Homo sapiens: one gene and its partners. The protein of the gene in region 3 purifies or fractionates together with the protein of the main gene of each other region. This does not show direct contact. Each region holds a gene or a part of one and is shown on either strand. Other genes may lie near its edges.

What was found. Proteins that work in one complex are often made in the same cells at the same time.
Region 1: the proteins of SDHAF3 (region 3) and SDHAF4 purify together in Homo sapiens (affinity purification with mass spectrometry; 3 studies listed by BioGRID and IntAct, with this or other methods). This does not show direct contact.
Region 2: the proteins of SDHAF3 (region 3) and SDHB purify together in Homo sapiens (affinity purification with mass spectrometry; 3 studies listed by BioGRID and IntAct, with this or other methods). This does not show direct contact.

What each region holds. Positions count from the first base shown.
Region 1 is NC_000006.12:70,562,753-70,569,950, forward strand, and holds the start of SDHAF4 (succinate dehydrogenase assembly factor 4, mitochondrial precursor), read left to right. Parts: upstream 1-4,177; 5' UTR 4,178-4,188; coding exon 4,189-4,252; intron 4,253-7,198. UniProt on the Homo sapiens protein: Plays an essential role in the assembly of succinate dehydrogenase (SDH), an enzyme complex (also referred to as respiratory complex II) that is a component of both the tricarboxylic acid (TCA) cycle and the mitochondrial electron transport chain, and which couples the oxidation of succinate to fumarate with the reduction of ubiquinone (coenzyme Q) to ubiquinol.
Region 2 is NC_000001.11:17,030,012-17,037,034, forward strand, and holds part of SDHB (succinate dehydrogenase [ubiquinone] iron-sulfur subunit, mitochondrial isoform 1 precursor), read right to left. Parts: intron 3,135-7,023; coding exon 3,049-3,134; intron 1-3,048. UniProt on the Homo sapiens protein: Iron-sulfur protein (IP) subunit of the succinate dehydrogenase complex (mitochondrial respiratory chain complex II), responsible for transferring electrons from succinate to ubiquinone (coenzyme Q).
Region 3 is NC_000007.14:97,113,269-97,120,704, forward strand, and holds the start of SDHAF3 (succinate dehydrogenase assembly factor 3, mitochondrial precursor), read left to right. Parts: upstream 1-4,429; 5' UTR 4,430-4,455; coding exon 4,456-4,629; intron 4,630-7,436. UniProt on the Homo sapiens protein: Plays an essential role in the assembly of succinate dehydrogenase (SDH), an enzyme complex (also referred to as respiratory complex II) that is a component of both the tricarboxylic acid (TCA) cycle and the mitochondrial electron transport chain, and which couples the oxidation of succinate to fumarate with the reduction of ubiquinone (coenzyme Q) to ubiquinol.

The DNA.
Region 1 (7,198 bases), on a different chromosome or scaffold from region 3:
GACCCCCCAACTCAAATATATATATACATATGAAATAAGAGAAAATTTTATAAACATGCATGAGCCAGTGAGGAAGAAAACAAAATAGAGCAGGGCTTTGCAATGTCCGTGCCAAGAATTACCTAGACTACTTTAAAAATACACATTCTAGGACCTTATTACGGACCACCTGAATCAGAATTTTCAGGATAGTGTAAAAGCAGCAGCATGTTTTATGTCCCAAATTTCTCTAATAACACGTCGCAAATACAGTACTTAGTCCTGTCAGTGGTCGTGAATCTAGATGGTTATGACTTCTCACCACTGCCAACTATTTTCTGTTTTCTTTATGTTCAAGCAGCACCTCTGCTGATCAGATTTATGTATCCAGTGGATGACAGAGGATCTGAGGTGTGGGTGGTCTTGCCTATATATGGTTGTAATAGTCTTATATGTAAATGTTACCATTCAGCATGGTATTTTTTAAAATAAAATATAAAAACATGGTATTGTGAGGAGGGATTCCAGGAGACCCCCCTGACTTCTGGTTATACTGTTCTCCCTACTCTCTTTTCTCCATGGTCATCAGGGCCAATCACTCCAGCTAGCACCATCACCACTTTCTCTAACCTTACCTAGAGGAATGAGGTCAAAATGGCTGGGTGGCAATTCCAGCTGGGCACAAAAATTGCTATACCAACAGAACCTGGACTCAGAGATGGCTAGCAAGAGTAGTGAAGGGTCTGAGATTTTATCCTACTTGCAAGGTTACAGGCTAGGTTGCTGCAGTTTCATGGATGATGACAGGATACTCCTGGACAAAAGACAAAACAGCTTTATTACAGCAAAATAGAAGCCAGAGTGTCCGCATATTTGCATCAGTTCCCGTAGCCCAATTCCCACAGTGTGATGCAGAGGGCCGGATGACGTCTGTGCACATGGGGGGTTGCATTACAGAAGAATCCAGGATCAAGAATCAAGCAGTTTTTGAGCAAACAACAAACAAGCTAGTCTCTCTCCCCCAGGGAGCAGCAGTTAAATGGTAGTAATGCTGTGATTGCCTTGACCTACTTAGGTGCCTATATGACTAACTACAGAAACTGCTTAGCATCAGGAGATGGATACGGCTTGCAGTCTGGCACACTCAGTAATAATATACAGGCATGTTCAGGGGCCTTCGGAGCTTGTCTCTTCTCTACTACAATGGAAAGCAAAATATATTTTATATCAGTAAGTCATATGCAATAGTAAGAAGTCAGACCCTTTTCTACTCTTTGATCTCTGTTATTCTGTCAACAGAAGATATATCACCAAATACCGTTGACTCATTTGGAAAATATGACAAATCCTTTAGGGCAGTATCCCAAAGTGTATTTTCTCACCTCGTTCCAAAACAACCTTCAATAAGGCTGTCCGTCATTCCATAAAATCGGTTGCTTTTGGATGATGGAATATATAAGACTGTGAATCCTGCAGGCATTAGTCCCCTGCTTTACATCTTTCACAAGAAAATGAGTTCTTCGGTAAGAAGCAATGTTGTATATGATATTGTATTAAATATGGAGTAGTGTGTTAAGGTATTCAGTAAGTCCACAGGTGAAGTATATAATAAGCATAAATCAGGGAAAACAATCTAAATGCAGAATAATTGTCTCTTCCTGTAAGAACAAATTGCAACCTCCTTCATAACAGTAGGATTTCATTGTAATCAGACCTGCCACCCAGACCACATAAAAGTGTATCATGGGATCAAGTTGGTCACTGCAGTTGGCGAGTAGTGGTAGTAGCCAATCAGTCATGGCAGAAGAAAGACGGTGTTAAAAGTACATGTATGTCTCCATTCTTGCCACCGTGGCTACCTTGTTACTGAGTCCACACCTGTTGTGGGGGAAGGAGGCTGAGTAATTGATGTCCACAGAATGGGTCACTGTTGCAGCCCTTGTGTAATCCCCTTTTGAGAGTGGCCGGGACCTAATAATAGGATACAGTGGAAGTGGTGGGATGTCGCTACCGAAATGAGATTACAGAAGTTCAGGGCTTCCATTTTGAGTGGTCTTTCTTGCTCCTTAGTTCATTTGTCCTGTGGAAAGCCAGCTGCCATGTTGCAAGATAGCCTTTGGAGAAGCCCACTTAACAAATAACTGAGAAGGTTTCCAGTCCAAAGTCCACAAGGAACCAAATCTTGCCAATAATCATGTGAATGAGCTTGGAAGCAGATCTTCCCTTAGTTGTGCATTTATACGAGACTGGGACTTCAGCCAACAGCTTGGCTGCAACCTCATTTAGGACCCAGAACCACAGTCACTCTGGCTTCTAGGTTACTGATCCACAAAAACTGTGAGAGAATAACTGTTTATTGCTTTAAGCCAATAAATTTTGGGATAATTTGTGAGGCAGCAATAGATAACTAATAATCTTGTTCTGATTAAGAGCCCTTCTGCAATGGAAGCTCTTTTTTTTTTTTTTTTTTTTAACGTTCAATAGGACCCAAATGTTTTCATGCTTTGGGACCACTTTGAGAGGTCCTATTCCAAAGACCCAGTCCAAAACTTTTACATTCCCAGTTCCCAGCCACTTGACAAACCAGTCACTGCCTATGAAATGTCGATTTTTATCTCAAGCCATGTCTCTTTTTAGGCAAAGCATACAAGATAAGCTAAATTCTGGCCAGGCACAGTGGCTCACACCTGTAATCCCAGCACTTTGGGAAGCTGAGAGGGGTGGATCCCTTGAGGCCAGGAGTTTGAAACCAGCCTGGTCAACATGGCGAAACCCTGTCTCTACTAAAAATAGAAAAATCAGCCAGGTGTGGTGACATGTGCCTGTAAAAACATAAAATACATAAATAAGCTAAATTATGCATGCTGGAAATAATTTTTTTTCCCTGTTCTGTTCCTTCAGGGCCTCTGTTAAGTGGGGCTCTAAATATGAAAAGCAGTCAGTTGCCAGCTGGGCCAGTTTATTGAGCAAAGCCATCATCCGACTTTGAATTTTTTCCTCAGTCAGCTAGTCACAAGGAATTCATTATTAAACTGTAGATATAAGCTAAAGGTCAAAAGCATGATATTAGGACTGTGAGCTCCCTACAAATGAAAACTGTTTCCGTTTTGACTTTGGCCCAGTTCTGTGTATCCCACTTTCTCTCTTTTTTCTTTTTCTGTTTTTGAGATGGAGTTTTGCTCTGTCTCCAAGGCTGGCGTGCAGTGGCGTGATCTCTGCTCACTGCAATCTCCGCCTCCCGAGTTCAAGCGATTCTTCTACCTCAGCCTCCCAAGTAGCTGGGATTACAGGAATGTGCCACCTCGCCCGGCTAATTTTTGTATTTTTAGTAGAGTGTTGGCCAGGCTGGTCTCGAACTCCTGACCTCAGGTAATCTACCCGCCTCGGCCTCCCAAAGTGTTCGGATTACAGGAGTGAGCCACCTTGCCCGGCCCACTTTCTCTTCGTAAAAGGATCTCCTTATCTAGGAGAACCAGATAATTCTCAGTTCATGATAAGAAGCTTCGATCGTATAACCACTTGATGTCACATGGTCAGACACTACCAAGGCGCAATAGCTAGCCAGAAACTTTTCTTTAAAAGAAAAGACAAAATTCCAGAATTCTGGGGGCCTTCACTATGATTCTGTAAATATTTCCACGAGTTGCACAAAGCATCCAGGTCTGCCACATCCACTCAACGCTATCAGAGCTGGTGGGATGTAAGGGTTAAGGGGCAGAGCTCATTGCACTGGATCCTGGCCTGGATGGAGAGCCTTTTCTTGCTTTGCACCTCATTCAAAAATGTCGCCTTTCATATCATCTGGTTAGTCGGTCAGAATGGACGAACTAGGAGCTGACTGAACAAAGATTTAAAACACAAAACAGGGAGAATTAGGTAAAAGAAGCATTTTACATGAGTGAGAGAGTAAAAGGTGCTCAATCTTTGTAAACTATAAAAGGGATCTTCCACGGGCCATTTCGGCTCAGACTGACAAGCATGAACGGAACGGAATTATTCCCTCTTCTAACTGCAGCCACGATTTGGCGTTTTAACACCGGGCTCAAGGTAGCCTGGGTCTCTCTTGGCCAAAGAGCCCAGGGATGCCTCTAACTCCTTTTCTAAAGCCGGCCACGGAGGCCCCGCCCTCTGCAGGGAGGCTCCGGATCATGCCCCCTGCTCCTCCCACTACTGCTTTGCGCCTGCGCGGAGGCTCGGGGAGTCGGCGCCATGACCCCATCGAGGCTTCCCTGGTTGCTTAGCTGGGTCTCGGCCACGGCGTGGAGAGCGGCAAGTAAGCACCTGGCCTCGGGGCCACGGTCGCGGGAGGGGTCGTGAAGGCCCAGGCGCAGAGAGAAGCGCCTCCCGCGGAGGAAGCCGCGTGTGTCCTGGCCGTTCGGTGTTGCCAGGGGCTGCCCAGCTTCTCCCGCCCAGCCGCCCACCCGGTGGCCTGGGCAGGTTCCTGCAGCGCCCCGGGTCTCGGGTGGGACTAGAGCGAGAAAATCGCTAAGGCCCTTTCAGCCCCCGGGACGTCCGCTTCCTACCGAGCACGCGGTGGCCCAACAGGACCACAAACGTTCCGGGTTGTTCCTGTGGGAGCTCGCAGGGCACACCGCACTTCGATGCCCCAGAGAAAAATGGAAAAGAAGGCCCTTTGGGAATGGGAGTCATTGATTTACTTATTTATTTACATCATTATTTACAGGAATCCGCGCTCCTGGTCCAGGCTCCAGCAGAAAAGGATTTGTGGCAGTTTACAGTTTATCTTTTAAAAATGGGAAAAGTGCAGAAGTGAGCCAAAGGCAAATAAGTATAACGTAAATTAGATGAAGCCAGGAATTGTCAGTACAGAAAAAGCATTCATGCTTTCAGTAAAACCAACATTTTTAAACCCATTGTTGTTGGAAATTTTTCTCAAGATAATACAGTTAGCAGCCCAGACTATGCAAAACATAATTTTATTTATTTATTTATTTATTTGTTTATTTATTTTGAGATGGAGTCTCGCTCTGTCCCTCAGGCTGGAGTGCAGTGGCGCAATCTCGGCTCACTGCAAGCTCTGCCTCCCAGGTTCACGCCATTCTCCTGCCTCAGCCTCCTGAGTAGCTGGGACTACAGGCGCCCGCCACCGTGCCTGACTAATTTTTTGTATTTTTAGTAGAGACGGGGTTTCACCGTGTTAGCCAGGATGGTCTCGATCTCCTGACCTTGTGATCCGCTCGCCTCGGCCTCCCAAAGTGCTGGGATTACAGGCGTGAGCCACCGCGCCCGGTCCGCAAAACATAATTTTAATATATGACACCTGGAGAAGTTATGTAAGTTGAAAACAGTAATTATTGCCCTCAAATGGTGCCAGATTTCTATGCAATTTGTTTTCCTTTGTGCAATCATTTTACCCAAATACAAACATTTTACTTAATTGTATAAGTTTTAAATAGTCCAGAAATGAATAATACAGAAAGTGAAAGTCCTACATTATCCAAACCTCAAGGTAATAACGTTAAAATTTTGTAGGGTTCATTCAACATCCCCCTTTAACTAGTTTTAAACAATTATGAATTATTCCATATATATATATGTATACACACACACACACGTAGCACACATGTAAGCTATGTAGCAGTCATGTAAGCTATGAAGCACAACCAGCATCTATGAACTTATACTCCAATTTAAGAAATAGTCTCTATTGCCAAGGAGGTCTCTATTTGCTGCTTCCTGATACAACTGTGCAATGGTGTTTTTAATCTTTATAGAAATGTTTTCATATTGTTGATTTTTTTTCAGATAACGCTGTGTTTTGTGATTGAGTCACATTGACGCATGAGGTTGTAGTTATTCATTCAACTGTGTGAACATATGATGCATTTTCCAGTGCCCTTCTCAAAGGACATTTGGGTAATTCCAGAAACACTAGGATTGGGTGCTACACATTCTTGTGTACCTTATTTGTGCATTAGTGGAAGGAGTAGAATTCCTGGAGTATGTTATAGGTCTTTTCATTGTTACAATATAATGCCAAGGTGTAACGGCATTTTCTAATTCTATAGCAATTTTCACTTCTACCAGCAGTGTATTGGAGTTCTGTTGTTCCACAAACTTGCCGAAACTTAATTTTGCCTTAGGTTTTAATTTTTGGCTGCCTACAGGGAAATGAAATGACACCTCATTGTGATTTTGCTTTTCTCTGATTAAAGAAGTAAAACATCTTTTCAAATATTCACTTTTTGTGAAATACCTCTTTCTTTTTTCTTTTTTTTTTTTTTTTTTTTTGAGGCGGAGTTTCGCTCTGTCGCCCGGGCTGGAGTGCAGTGGCGCGATCTCGACTCACTGCAAGCTCCGCCTCCTGGGTTCACGCCATTCTCCTGCCTCAGCCTCCCGTGTAGCTGGGACTACAGGCGCGCGCCACCACGCCCGGCTAATTTTTGTATTTTTAGTAGAGACGGGGTTTCACCGTGTTAGCCAGGATGGTCTCGATCTCCTGACCTCGTGATCCGCCCGTCTCGGCCTCCCAAAGTGCTGGGATTACAGGCGTGAGCCACCGCACCCGGCCTCTTTTTTCTTTCTTTGTTTTTGAGACGGAGTTTCACTCTTGTTGCCCAGGCTGGAGTGCAATGGCGAGATCTCAGCTCACTGCAACATCTGCCTCCTGAGTTCAAACGATTCTCCTGCCTCAGCCTCCCAAGTAGCTGGTATTACAGGCGCCCACCACCACACCCAGATAATTTTTTGTATTTTTGGTAGAGACAGGGTTTTGCCATGAACTCAGGTGATCTATCAGCCTCGGCCTACCGAAGTGTTGGGATTACAGGCGTGAGCTGCCACGCCCGGCCTTTTTTCTTAACAGATTGCTTCTTATTTATATTCTTTACATATATTTGTATGCTAAACCTTTTTTAGTTACGTAAGTGTCAAATACCTCAATTTGTGGTTTGTTTCTGTCACTGCTAGGCAGAATAGAATAACGGGTCTGCATGTGTAATCATGCAGCTTCAATATAAAAGGTATCTTAATAAACAGATGTTTATAATTTTATCTATAAAATTTTGTCTTGATCCTTTTGTTTATTGTGACTGCCTTGTGGTCTTGTCTAAGAAACCCTTCTGTACCCTAAAGTCATGGACATAATCTCTTATATTTTCTTCTCAAAGGTTTATAGTTTTGCTTTTCACATTTAAGCCTTTATTCTACCAGGAATTGATGGTTTGTATATGGTGTGAGGCAGGAAACCAGTTTTCAT
Region 2 (7,023 bases), on a different chromosome or scaffold from region 3:
GCCAACATGGTAACCCCCTGTCTCTACTAAAAATATAAGTCGTGGTGGGTGCCTGTAATCCCAGCTACTCAGGAGGGTGAGGCGGGAGAATCATTTGAACTGAGGAGGAGAAGGTTGCAGTGAGCAGAGATCGCGCCACTGCACTCCAGCCTGGGTGACAGAGCAAGATTCCATCTCAAAAAAAAGAAAAAAATAATTGTTTTTTGTAGAGCAGGTGTCTCACTATATTGCCCAGGCTGGTCTCTAACTCACGGCCTCAAGTAATCCTTCTGCCTTTGCCTCCCACTGTGTTGGGATTACAGGCCTGAGCCACTACACTTGACAGAGGTAAGGCTTCTTCTATTGTCTTCATAAAATACGCAGCATAGTACCCTGGGGCTATGAAATCCACAAAAGCTGACTCAGCATGGACTTTCCAAAGAGGAGAAGAATGAACTAATATGAAACTGAGGCAAAGCAAAGCAAACTAAACAAAAAACGTGCTGACCCAGGACCCCGACATGAGAATTTTCTTAGCCTGGACCTACTTCCTGTATATGGAAATTTCCTGGGTGTTTTGGAATTTAAAAATGATTATGTACTCTAAACCTCTAGTGCCAGTCCTCTGAAGCTGTTTTTTGAAGATCATTAGGTCAGAGAAACCTGATTGCTTGAGAAAGTTGCACTGGTTATCATCTTTTTTTTTTTTTAGATGGAGTCTTGCTCTGTCGCCCAGGCTGGAGTGCAGTGGCACGATCTCGGCTTACTGCAACCTCTGCCTCCCGGGTTCAAGTGATTCTCCTGCCTCAGCCTCCTGAGTAGCTGGGATTATAGACGCCCGCCACCACACCTGGCTAATTTTTGTATTTTTAGTAGAGACGGGGTTTTACCACGTTGGTCAGGCTGGTCTCGAACTCTGACCTTGTGATCTGCCCGCCTCGGCCTCTGAATGCCTGGCCTCACCTTTTTTTTTTTTTTTTTTAATGGAAAGGGAGTCTATGTTTCCCAGGCTGGTCTTAAACTCCTAGCCTCAAGCTAGCCTACCACCTAGACCTCCCAAAGTACTGGGATCACAGGCGTGAGCCACTGCGCCCAGTCGGTTATCACTTTCATAAGACTAGAAAAGACAGTAAGACTCTCCTTCTCCTGTAAATCTTAGAAAGAGTGTAAGGGAACCCAAAGATGTGTCTTAAGCAAATACTCCTAGAGTTCCCCAAGAGACTGGATATTATCAATACATTTATGTATACCTGGCATCCAACTAGAGCAGTTTGCTTTTACAAGAAATGGCATAAAAATTAAAAAAATAAATCCAATGAACTTTCTCTCAAAAAGGCTCCCTGGGAATTCTCTTACAAGATGGGAATTAAAAAAAAAATAAGAAAAACAAGATGGGAATAAAAAGGAGTAGCAATTGATACAATTCTGCTTTATTTTTTTTAGTCCAGATGGGTCACACCTTATGTTCTTGGTTCTGAAAGAGTCCTACAGGGAAAGGTTACTGAAAAGCATCTACCTTTCCTGTGTTGCCAGGACTTAATGGGGAAGGCTGCTGTTTAACTGCCGCAGAATGTTCCCTGAACAGCAGGACTCAGCCGAACTATCATAATATCCATCAGCATTTGCAACGCTAAATAAGATTAGCTGAATCAAAACAGATGTCTTAAAAGACTTGAAATGCTTGAAATGTACAGCTGAACAGATAAAAAGCCATGGGCCGGTATCAATACTGGCTTTTCCTTTTTTTTTAAGGTTTTCTTAGAAAAAAGCTCAGTGTCCTCACAGAATCAAGCTACTCTCTGCTTTTGTTTTATCCCAGGTGTTCCAAGCCAAGTCAGTGCCTGAGAGAGCAGATCTGGAGTCTGGAGTCTGACAGCTTTGGCTGACTCCCGGCTCTCAAGTCACTCTCTATGTGTCCTTGTGGAAGTCCATTACCCTCTCTGGGCCTCACCTTTAAATTGAAGGTAGATAATAAGCACAGTCATCTACCTCATGTCCAGTGCACAGAACAGAGCCGGGCACACAGTCTGGCTCCACGGACATCAGGCCAGTCGGTCTTCACTGCACCCTGTGCAATTTTTGCTATACCTGAGAACCACCTGAATCAACTTTCTTTAAAGTATCTCTTGGGTTTTCTTTAACTTGTTTTGCTTAAATTCACATTAAAAAACCACTTATATCCCTATTATACCATCATTAGTAATTATATTTTTCTTTTTTTTTTTTTTGAGACTGTCTCGCTCTATTGCCCAGGCTGGAGTGCAGTGGCGTGATCTTGGCTCACTGCAAACTCCACCTCCCGGGTTCCTGCCTCAGCCTCCCGAGTAGCCAGGATTACAGGCGTCCGCTATCACGCCCGGCTAATTTTTGTATTTTTAGTAGAGACAAGGTTTCACCATGTTGGCCAGGTTGATCTCGAACTCCTGACGCCAGCTGATCCACCCGCCTCGGCCTCCCAAAGTGCTGGGATTACAGGTGTGAGCCACCGCACCCGGCAGTAATTATATTTTTCTAATACAGAAAATGAATACATTGCTATTCATGTAGAAAATGTTAGTCTGCACACTGCCTCAAATGGGCTCATGTGGCACCAGCAGCACAAGTAACCACATGCTGAGGGAGACACTGTACCAGCCAATCCAGAACACAGCTACCAAGGACATGTCATGCTGGGAGCTGAGGGAGACTCACACATCTCCCCTGCTGGACAAGCATAAGTGCCAGACAGAAACTCTCCACTGCTCCCTTAATAAAAGAGCTCAGCAGCATGGAAGGTGCCAGCCAGCAGGTCCTAGCTAGGCCTTGAAGCGTGGAGCAGCTCACAGGGACCGCCAGATGCAGTAACCACAGGATAGAATGCTCCTGAAGGAAAGTAAACTCAGAAACCAGAACTTGCACCATGGTTAGAATTTTGGATGCATTTACCCAAGAAAAGGAATTAGGTTGCACAGCAAGTTCACCCAGCAGAGAGCTGCAGCTGTTTTCCAGATGTCTCTATCAGCTTTGGCCAGCCCAAGCCTCTTTGGAAGACCACAAGTATCTGGAGCCCAACAGGAATGAAATGCTCACCTTCTCTGCATGATCTTCGGAAGGTCAAAGTAGAGTCAACTTCATTCTTAATCTTGATTAAAGCATCCAATACCATGGGGCCACATCTAACAAAGAAAAATATCCAGTGGTATTTATGTAACGTTCAACCTCCCTACACTTTATCATAATATAATCGGAGACACCTGGATGTATTAGCTTATCCATTTGGTCTTCTCAGGTCACCTTCGGAATTTGTTCTGTAGTTTTGTTTTTGCAGATTCTTACATTTTAAGTACTGCACAGTTCTATTTTGATGATCACAGTGCAAACACATTTCTAGGAAATGGAAAGCTAAAGTAGTAGTAGACAAGTATGACACAACTTCCATACAGTGGCCGAGTTTTTGTTTTTTACTTCTGAAGCTCCCTGCAAAGTTTTTCCAAATAATTTATTTCAAATTTTAGTTTGATTTTTAGGATGTAGACAATAGTTTTAAATAGTAATTAATAATACATAACCATAAGAGAAGACATAGTACAGAGAATAAAAGACACCCAATCACTCACAGTCCCCCAGTCAAATCACTGTGAGCCTCCTAGAACATACAAGGGCAGTGACATGGTACTAAGCGGAGCATCCCTGGGCGTGGGACCTGGAGTGCCGGCCTGGCAGCCAAGAGACTGGTCTGCACCATGGCTGAGCCACTTACCAGCTTGCAGGCAAATGATTTAATTTCTGCCTAGGCATTTAATCCACTGAGTGCAGAGAGCAGCACCTGCATCCCACAGGATTGCTGGAGGTGAGTTAATACACACGAGATCTTTACAGCAGCATCTGACATATAAATCATAGTTTAACTATAATAATCATCATGCAGAAACTGTGATTCTACGGAAATTACTCTCTGAACCTCAGTTTATCTGTAGAGTTAATATTTACACCACAGGGTTACTGTGAAAATTACATAAAAATATGTAATTTTTCATAGTACCTGGCATACAGTAAGTGCTCCACAAATCTATTTTCTGGTTGCCACCCTGCCCCCATTCCACTCACTAATTTTCTATGCATGAGATTAAAAATATACTTAAAAATACGTCATTTCCTTTAGTACTATCTGTATTTCATTTTTTTTCTTTTTTTTCTTGAGACGGGGTCTTGCTCTGTTACCCAGGCTGGAGTGCAGTGGCACGATCTCAGATCTGTAACCTCCGCATCCCAGCCTCAAGAGATCCTCCTGCCTCAGCCCCCCAGTAGCTGGGACTACAGGTATGTGCCACCACATCCAGCTTAATTTTTGTATTTTTTTGTAGAGGTGGGATTTCGCCATGTTGCCCAGGCTGGTCTCTAACTCCTGGACTCAAGTGATCCTCCTGCCTTGGATTCTCAAAGTGTTGGGATTATGGGTGTGAGGCAATGGTGCGATCTCGGCTCACTGCAACCTCTACCTTCCGGGTTCAAGCGATTCTCCTGCCTCAGCCTCCCGAGTAGCTGGGATTACAGGTGCATGCCACCACACCCGGCAAATTTTTGTATTTTTAGTAGAGATAGGTTTTCCCATGTTGGCCAGGCTGGTCTCAAACTCCTGACCTCAAGTGATCCACCTGCCTCAGCCTTCCCAAATGCTGGGATTACAGGTGTGAGCGACTGCGTCTGGCCCATTATCTGTATTTGTATCAGCACTATGTAGACGTCCTTTCTGCTGGACCTCTGCTAACACTGGGAATTGGAAGCTTTAAAAACCTTTGCTATTCTGATACTGGAGAAGTGTTATTGTTTTCAGTGTTTTAAATCGAGACTTTTGAATACTACATAGGTTGAATGTTTGTCATAAATTTACTAATTTTTCTTTATTTCCCAATTATTTATTGAACATTTACTCTGCCAGGTTCTGTTCTAGATGCTGGGGATGTAGCAGAGAATAAAAGAGACGAATACCACCTGCCCGCACAAAGCTCTGTTCCAGAGGACTCATTCTAGAGACTCAGTCTGTCCACATTCTTTGCCTCTGTTTACCAGGGTCTTGGAAATTCTTTTTCATGATCTGAGGCTCTTATATATTATATCTGTTGCCATTTCTGCTTCCTCCCTCACTGCCAATAGTAATGTGCTATTTGACTTCTAATTTTGGTAACAGAATTTTAAACATACATGAGTTAAATGTTTACATTAATAAAGGTGGCTATTCTTTCTTTTATAACATTATCTATCACTTTTAAGCCTAAACAGACCACTGCCCTTCCTGAGGTCTGATAAATACTTTACATTTTTTTCTACTTAAAAAAAATTTTAAGTTACTCCCCTAAAACTGCAAAAACTGTATCAGTTGTCCCAAATCACTGACTAAATCCTCTTTTGCTTCTTATTTGTAATACCTTTCTCCCATATTTAATACTGGGAACTTAGATAAAATTGAGTCTGTTTTGTTGCTACATTTTTATTCTAATGATCTGCCTGTTCTTGTCCTAGCATATTTTAAATGACAACAACATCTTTGTTTTTTTTACATTACAAAGGCTAATATTTGCAGCCTATAAAAATTTCAAATTGGCCAGGTGGGTGGCTCACGCCTGTAATCCCAGCACTTTGGGAGGCACTTTGGGAGGCCTTGGCGGGTGGATCATGAGGTCAGGAGATTGAGACCATCCTGGCTAACGTGGTGAAACCGTCTCTACTAAAAATACAAAAAATTAGCTGGGTGTGGTTGCACGTGCCTGTAGTCCCAATTACTTGGGAGGCTGAGGCAGGAAAATTGCTTGAACCCCAGAGGCGGAGGTTGCAGTGAGCCGAGACCGCACCACTGCACTCCAGCCTGGGAGACAGAGCGAGACTGTCTCAAAAAAATAAATAAATAAATAGATAAATAAATAAATAAATTCAAATCAAAGGTAAAAAGTAATCCTGCAGATCATACTGGGACAGAGAAAAATATTAAAAAGTCAAAGTCCTCTCTTTAAGCTGTTTCATGCTAAATTTCCTAATAGGTAGGGCTCATTAAAGAGTACAACATAAATTTTCTCAGATTTTACATAGATACCAAAATTGTTTGATATTCTGGGTCCCTTGCATTTCTATAAGATTTTTAGAATCAACTTGTCAACTTCTGCAGAAAAGGCAGGTGGGATTTTGATGGGGATTGCAATGAATCTGGAAATCAATTTGGAGACCACTGCCTCCTTAACAACATTAAGTCTTCCAACCCACAAACAGGGCATGTCTTTCCATTTATTTATGTCTTCTTAAATTTCTTTCAACAATGTTTTACAGTTTTTCAGCATATAAGTCTTTTACTTATTTGATTTTTGAGACAGGATCTCACTCTGTCGCCCAGGCTGGATGGAGTGCAGTGTTGTGATCACAGCTCACTGCAGGTTTGACCTCCCAGGCTCAAGTGATTCTCCCACCTCAGCCTCCAAGTAGCTGGGACTATAGGCACAGGAAGGTCATCAAGCCCAGCTAACTTTTTTTGTAGAGATGGGGTTTTGTCTTATTGCCCATATAATTTGTTCCTAAGAATTTCTTTTTTGATGCTGTTATATGGAAAATAGTTTTTAAATTTCATTTTAGGATTGTTCATTGCTAGTGTATAGAAATCCAATTTTTGTTTTTTTAACAGTACTTACAGGCTTTTTTCTAGGTAAGCAGGGTTTTACATATATAAATATAAATATTTATATAAATATGAATATATAAATATAAATATTTATATAAATATGAATATATAAATATAAATATTTATATAAATATGAATATATAAATATAAATACATATATAAATATATATGTATACACACACACACACACATTTTTTCTGTAGAGACTAAGTCTTGCTATTGTTGCCCAGGCTGGTCTCAAAACTCCTGGCCTCAAGCAATCCTCCTGCCTTGGCCTCACAAAGAAAGTGCTAGTATTACAAGTGTGAGCCACCATGCCTAGCCTAGAAAAATACATTTATCTGCTAATATCTGCTACACGCCAGTATTTTCAGAAAAAGAATTATGCTGTTGTGAAAATG
Region 3 (7,436 bases):
TGTTTTTCAGCTTATGAACAATGGTCATTTTTTTCCTCCTTATATCTTATAGTATATCATTAATACTTTAAATTATAAAATATAACATTTTATCTGGACTTTCGATTGATTTTCTGTTCTCAGTAATCAACAATTATAAACATTTAAAAACATTCCTTATGGTTTGCTTTTTCTCTCCAGATACAAACACATTAAGTTTCTCTTTGATTTTTTTTTTTTTTTTTGAGACGGTATCTCGCTCTGTCACCCAAGCTGGAGTGCAGTGGCGCAATCTCGGCTCACTGCAAGTTCCACCTCCCTGTTTCATGCCATTCTCCTGCCTCAGCCTCCCGTCTCTGGTATTTTTTATGTAACATGTTTCAGAAATTCAGAAAAATGCTAAAGACTATTATGCTTTCTAAACTGACTTTCAGAGAATGGACTTTCCATGAATGTATTTGCTTTTCTAATTCCTTGAACAGTATGTTTAAGCTTGAAATTTTGGTTTTAAGACTATCTGCTATCTTACCATTGCATTTCAATAATTAGACATACCAGATACCATTTAAAAACGTTAAAGAATTCTTTTCTTTTTATAGTTTTAATCGTCACACAATGATGTACCTAACTTTGAGACTCCAAGGTAAGGTGGGAAATGAAAGACAATTTCTGGTGTTGTTTTGGGGGACCATGGGTAGTCGCAATGGCCAGATCAGGTTTGTACATCTCTCTAGGCCTCTAAGCATGTGAGAGCTGTTTGGGTTGAAGATGTATCTTGTCCCAGACTTTTCATTGTTCTCAGTAATTTAGAACTTGAAATTTGAGTAACTATAATTTGAAAACTGAGCCACTTGTGCAACTGAATTCAAGACTGTAAAAACCTTGTTTTCTTATCTAATGATGTAAAGCAGCTTCCAAATCTTTTGTCATCAGTTCTCCCCCTCCCCACTCCTTTCTCACTTCCGTTTGAGAGAAAAATGCTTTAGCATTATTTGCAAGCAAGTCTTATTTTCAACATTTTAGTAAAGACTAGAGTATAATACAAAGTGAAAATTCAGTACACTCCATACAGGTATTTCTTCTCCTTTAATTTATTTTTCCTCATTTACCAATTCTCTCCATCTCTTTTGACCTCAAAATTCTCTATCTGCTTGCCAAAAATTGTCCCTAGCTGCCTCCTTCCATTTCTAGCTGTGTGTGAGGTAGTCCACAGAAGCAATACACTGAATAGTGCAGTTGCTGTGTTGATCATCCCTATGGCTATAGGTGGTTATTATATTTTGTGTGCCCTGAAAGGCTTAGGTGATGTGTTCCATATACAATTTTAAGGCATTTACCCCACGTTTTTCTAAACAAAAAATTTTTAAAGCAATTATTTAAGAGTGGATATATGTTCTCTTTCACTTTACAAAAAATTTTGGAGGGAATCTGAGAGAAGTCATGGTTAGAGATTAGTAAAGTTGGAAAGTACTGCAAATTACCTAACCCAGCTCATTTACAAGTGAGAAAATCTGGGCACAGAGCGGTTAAATCACTTGCAGAGTAACATATAAGAAAAAGAAACACATGAAGGAAGGATAAAGGAAAGGTCTGCATGAAGTGTAGTGATCTAGATTGGTGGCCAGAAATATAAGTGTGATTTTATTTTCAGTTCATGGCTATTTTTACCACAAGAGGAACACTGATCAGCCTAAATTGGTCAGGGAAACAGAGAAAAGTTTTGTCCTCAAAACATAGCTCACTGTCCAGCTTGTTGTAAAAAAAATAAAATAAAGGTTAACTGTCATTATTCTCACTGTTATTGCTTTATTCCACTTCTCAAGGCCTAACCACACCACTATGTCTTGGCTTCTCTTTCACCCATCGTCTGCCATTTTGAGCATTGATTCTCCAATGCTTTGTGGACCCTTTCTACTCTCTTTAGGCTCAATTAATTCCTTTATTTTTTAATTAATTCATTGGCAGAATGTTTTCTCACATTTTTATAAGAGTGTTGGCTCTTGAAAGAGGTATTTATTACACATGTTCTTTAACTCCAAAGGAAACCAGAAAAAAACAAACGGGGACAAGAAATCAATTTTCAATTTTACAGGGATATTAACAGATGAAGTATGGTTAGAAAAAAATTTCCTGAAGCAAAATAACCACGCTGCCATTCAATCCTTGCCATTAATGCAGTTTGTCATAATACCAAATTAAATCCATTTTTAAAAAGTTCTGTGTTTTTTAAAACACATATTTTCCCTAAATTTAAGCAAAAGGAGAAGCTCTATTCAAAGCAATAAATTCTACTTACTATTTGTATGGCACTGTGGTGGGCCCTGAAAAGGATACTAAAATGAGTAAGTACCTGCCTTCAGTAGCTGAGTGTGTCTTGTTTTTCTTTCAGAAAGTTTTTGCACAGAAAGAAGTCTGGGGTCTGTGAGACAATCACACAAATTTCAACATTTCTGCCTCTTCTTCACCAGCAGGAATATGAGGCATCTGACACCGTTAGTGAGTTTCACACATTAATTCAACAGATATTTATTGAGTGCTTACTACAGACCTAGTGCAGGTCACTAACAAATCACAAAATCCCTGCCCCTATAGAATTTGTACTCTAGTTGGGGGATAATAAATGGAGAATAAGCACATGAGTAAATTATGTAAGTAATATAGAGAGAAACAAAGCAGAGGAGGAGCATAAGAAATTCTTGGTTTGGTGAGGTTGCAACTTCAAGCAGGGTTTCAAATAGGGTTGCCAGGGAGGGTCTCATTAGAAGGGGACCTGAAGTATGCGCTGAGTGAAATAAAAGTGTTAGCCAGGAAGATACATTTGGCAAAGCACTCCAAGTAGACGGGACAGCAAGTGCCAAGGCCTCAGTTGGGAGTGTACCTGGCTTTTTAAAATATGAACTAAGAGCTAGGAGGCCAGTGTGGCTGCAACTGGCTAACTAGGGAGAAAGCAATAGGAGAAAATTTAAACCTTTAAGGGCTAGAGACTGGGCTTTACTCTGATGAAAATCCCTGGAGGCTTTTGTTGAGCAGAGGAGTGAAATGATCCGATTTACAGTTTAGATTGTTAAAAGAAAAACTTTAAACAAGTTAAATCTAATAAAGTTTATTTGCACGAGCGCACGTGCACACACACACACGATTTATGAGGCATTCATCAGGCAGCAGCACTTAACAGGGAGAGGTTCAGAGAGCTCTACCCAGCACTGTGGGCAGGCAGTATTTATAGACAGAAAAAGGAAGTGCCCCACAGAAACAGCTTGATTGCTTACAGTTGGGCTAGTCTTATTTGGGCAGGACATTATGACGTATTTGCCTTATATGCACATAGTCTGATCAGTTGGCAGCCTGTGATTGGCTGAAGCTCAGCTACTTGTCACAAGAATATACTCTCAGTTGCAGTTAATTTACATACTAAGTTAGGTTGCAGTTCCCTACATAGCAACTCAGAGTAGGGAGGAAATTTTAGGCCAAATTTAATTTAAATTATGTTGGAGCATGACCAAAGTTGGTCATGACCAGAAGCTGAACACAGATATGGAAGCTAACACAATATCCAGTGGAGAGAGATTGTGGTAGAGTACATGGGGCGAAATGGTTGATTTCTGCATTTTTGTTGGTGACGCCATCAGGATTTGCTGAAGAACCAAACGTGTGACAGGAAAGGACAACACAAGGAGCTGCCAGCTTTGGAAACCAGTTCTACTCTCAGTATTACCTTCGCAAAAGATAGAGCTTTGTAAATTTCTAGATTCCTCGTTCTTATTATCCTAGACTATTTAACCAGAATCTCCAGGGTCGTGGTCCTGGAAACAATACGTTTAAAACTCTTCCCAAGGATCCTTCAGCAGCCAACTTGACTTTGGCTAAGGAGTCCGCCAGCTCTGGGCTCACTTGGGTTGTTTGCAAGGAAGAGCCCATGCCCAGAGTATAAATTGGGAGAACAGCGCTGTGCAAAGAGCGTGGGTTGGTGAGCTAGTGGATGGCGAGATTAATCTCACTCTGATCCCTAAAGCAGGGTGCAGTAATACTCTAAATGCCTCAAATGGGTTGGGAACCATGGAAGGAATCCCGGAGGAGCCCGATCTTAACGAAGCTTTTCTCAGGCCTTTGGTAGGAGGACAGAAACGAAGTTGAATGAAAAAGACAGTGGAGTGGGACTGAGAAATGACAACGGCCCACCACAGACCTCTCTCTTTCAAGGCCTGTGTCGTCAGGACGCAGGCCAGAAGAAGCCACGACGAGGCGCAGGCGCGACTCCACGAGGGCCACGCCCCTCCTAGAGAAGGACCGACCCGTTTTCCGCCCGCAGCGGAGCTTGGGTTTCCGGGAGGACCTGATTGTGCAAGGGACCAAACCGGATAGAGGTCGCGCGCCCTCTTTCGTCTGCCTTCCGGTTCACTAATACGCAAGTTCGCAGAAGTGCGGGAACGCGCCGTCCCTCTGCGCAGGCGCAGTCGGCGGTCGGCGTGGGGCGCTATGCCGGGGCGGCACGTTTCTCGAGTCCGGGCATTGTACAAGCGCGTCTTGCAGCTGCACCGTGTTCTGCCCCCGGACCTCAAATCCCTGGGCGACCAGTACGTGAAAGACGAATTTAGGAGACATAAGACCGTTGGTTCTGACGAGGCACAGCGTTTCTTGCAAGAATGGGAGGCAAGTGACGCTCCCTTCTCTTTGCCCAAGACCTTTGGGGTTCCTCGGTGTCCAGGTTTCTAGTTCCAGTCCCCCATGCGGGGTTAAACAGAGCAGCAACCTGTTCTGTTTGAAATAGCGTAATGCTGTTCAGGTAACACTTTCCAAAGTTTCTCCCACGGGTTTCTCACTAGAGCAGATCCTGTTACTTCAGCGTCCCCAATTCAGTTCAACTTTTGAGCTCCTGCAGATGCCAGGTGCTCAAAGGGTGAGGGTAGGAGGTCACAAAAATGAGCAAGTCGTCGTTAAGTGCTCAAAAACCTCAGGAGCTTTTTGTCCTTTTAAGTGCCTTTGCACCTAGTAAGCGCCCATTAATAAATTAATGGTTCTCTTATTAGTTTTCAAATTTAAAGGCTTATTTCCGTAATTTATTATTTAATCTCAGCGCTTTTGGTTGGGTTTAAATAATTTTCTCACTTGGCTGATACAGAAATCAGGTAACATGAAAAAGATTACAAAAGGTTGGAGATTACAAACTGTGAAGGAGAAAAATGCTGGTGGCAGTTAAGTCAGGCGAAAGTTGTTTCCTCCGGTCTCAAGTCATTGTTACTTCGCCCTGCACCATTGCGCTAAATATTAAACAGACACATGCATTAGCAATAAGTCGTTTGACTTTTTTTTTTTTTTTTTGAGTAAAGGAAAAAAGATATTCAGAGTATTTCGTGGGGCTCGGGGCCCTGCAGGATTGCCCCTAGTTTTCATTTGCAAATATAAATAAATGAATGGAATTAGAGATTGGAATGACAGCTCAGATATTTGAAAGCATGAGTTGGAGCTGATATGAAAATAGAGGTAAGCGGTTCTTCGGCCTAAATAGTTGAAGGGGAGATGACTGAAGTCGGCTTTGTAAAAAAAAATCAAAAGAATGGTTAGGGTGAACACAAACTTTGCACTGACTTCCAGAATTCTTTTTTGTATAATTATTGAAGCTTTTAAGAGCGACATTTAGAACAATCGGGAAATTTAGAACTTTCTTGAAAATCATGGTGTATTTGATGTAATTCGCTTGCCTGAAGCAGGGAAGTTGAAGCTTTTCAGACACAGAGCACTTTATTTTAATAAGGTAATTTGGTTTTGGAGCCTGAAGAACTGGATTCAGATTCAGTCTCTGACATTTTAAGTGTCAGATCACATAATTTTTCTAGTCTTATTTTCTCATCTATAAAATAATAAGTGTTTATGCATCTCAAAATTTACGTATGTAAATGTATTTACAAGCACTTGTGTATTGCTAATTGTTATGAAGCTATAAGATACTGTATTAAAGTATTTTACATCTTTTATGGTAGGTCATTTTGTGGCCGTACAGGAAGGAGAGTAGCTCTCTGTTGGGAGGAAATAAGGTTATTTTAAGAAGTCTTAAAATGTAAGCACATGGAAGCCTCTTTGGGAAAAAGTAGGAAAGAGTAGCAACTCAGAAAAAATTGATAATAGGTTGTAGGAGAGAGAGAGGGTATAAAAAAGAACTGCATAAATAAAAAATGTGTTAGTTGACCTAGTAGGCTTGGTAACTGGGATTGAGCTTTTTAAAACTTGGAATAATTTTAGACATACAGAAGAGTTAGAAAGACAGTAGAGAGTTCCCTACATCCTGTTTCCCCCTGTGTTAGCATCTTACATAATCAGGGTACAGTGATCAAAAACAAGAAATTAACATTGCTACAATGCTGTTAACTACAGACTTTATTTACAATTTGCCAGCCCTTTCACTAATGTCCTTATTCTGTTCCAGGATCCAATGGGGATTCTACAATGCATTTAGTTATTCTTTTTCCTTAATCTCCATTCTGTGACAGTTGCTCCGTCTTCCTATCTTTCATTACCTTGATACTTTTTTGAAAAGTACTAGTCTGTTACTTTGTGGAATGTATCTCAATTTGAGTTTGTCTGATGTTTTCTCATGGTTAAATTGATGTTATGCATTTCATAACATCTCAGTAAGAATACCACATGGGCAAAGTGTTCGCCTCAACACTTAATGTCAGAGGGCACATGATACTAACATGACTTCTTACTGGTGATGATAACTGTGATCACTTGGTTAAAGTAATAATCCACGTGGTGTCTCTACTGTAAACTTACTATTTTCTCTTTTGAAATTAATACATATTTGGGGGTAGGTACTCTCAGGCTTTCAGATGATTACTAGTCTTAGCATTCATTGATGGATTTTGCCATTGTGTTCCAATGGTGGCTCTTTTGTTTCCCTCATTCCTTCTGAATTTATTAGTTGACACGCGTCTGTAGAGAACAGTTTTCCTGTCTTCCCCGACCATTGTTGATCTACTGGAATTAATGAATTGGCAGCTGGGTAAAGATAAATTTAAACGTAGTAATCTCTTTGTATAACATAATTATCACAGTTACAAGGCAGCTTAATCTAAGCCTGGGAGTTAGACGTGGTAGGTTGGATCCTACCAGGAAAGATACTTGAAGAACTGGTCTTTTTGAAAGAGTAGGGCTAGAGAAGATGCTAATGATTGGAGGGGAGAAAAACCTGGCTAGAGAAGTTTTATCACCAGAGAGTAATATACTTAAGACTTCCAAGTCTTTTTCCCCCCCACCTGTTCTTCAAAATATCTAATTTATGATTATGTTATACTAGATACTGCTAGACATGACATGGATTTTTATGCCTTTATTTTTCAGTTAGTGCTCATTACAAACTTGGCACCTGTTGTTTGAATATAACTTAATGGTTACGTTTACATCAAACTAAGAGTAACTGTTGTGGACTTCTAACTTAATATGTAGAGTCTGGTCTACAC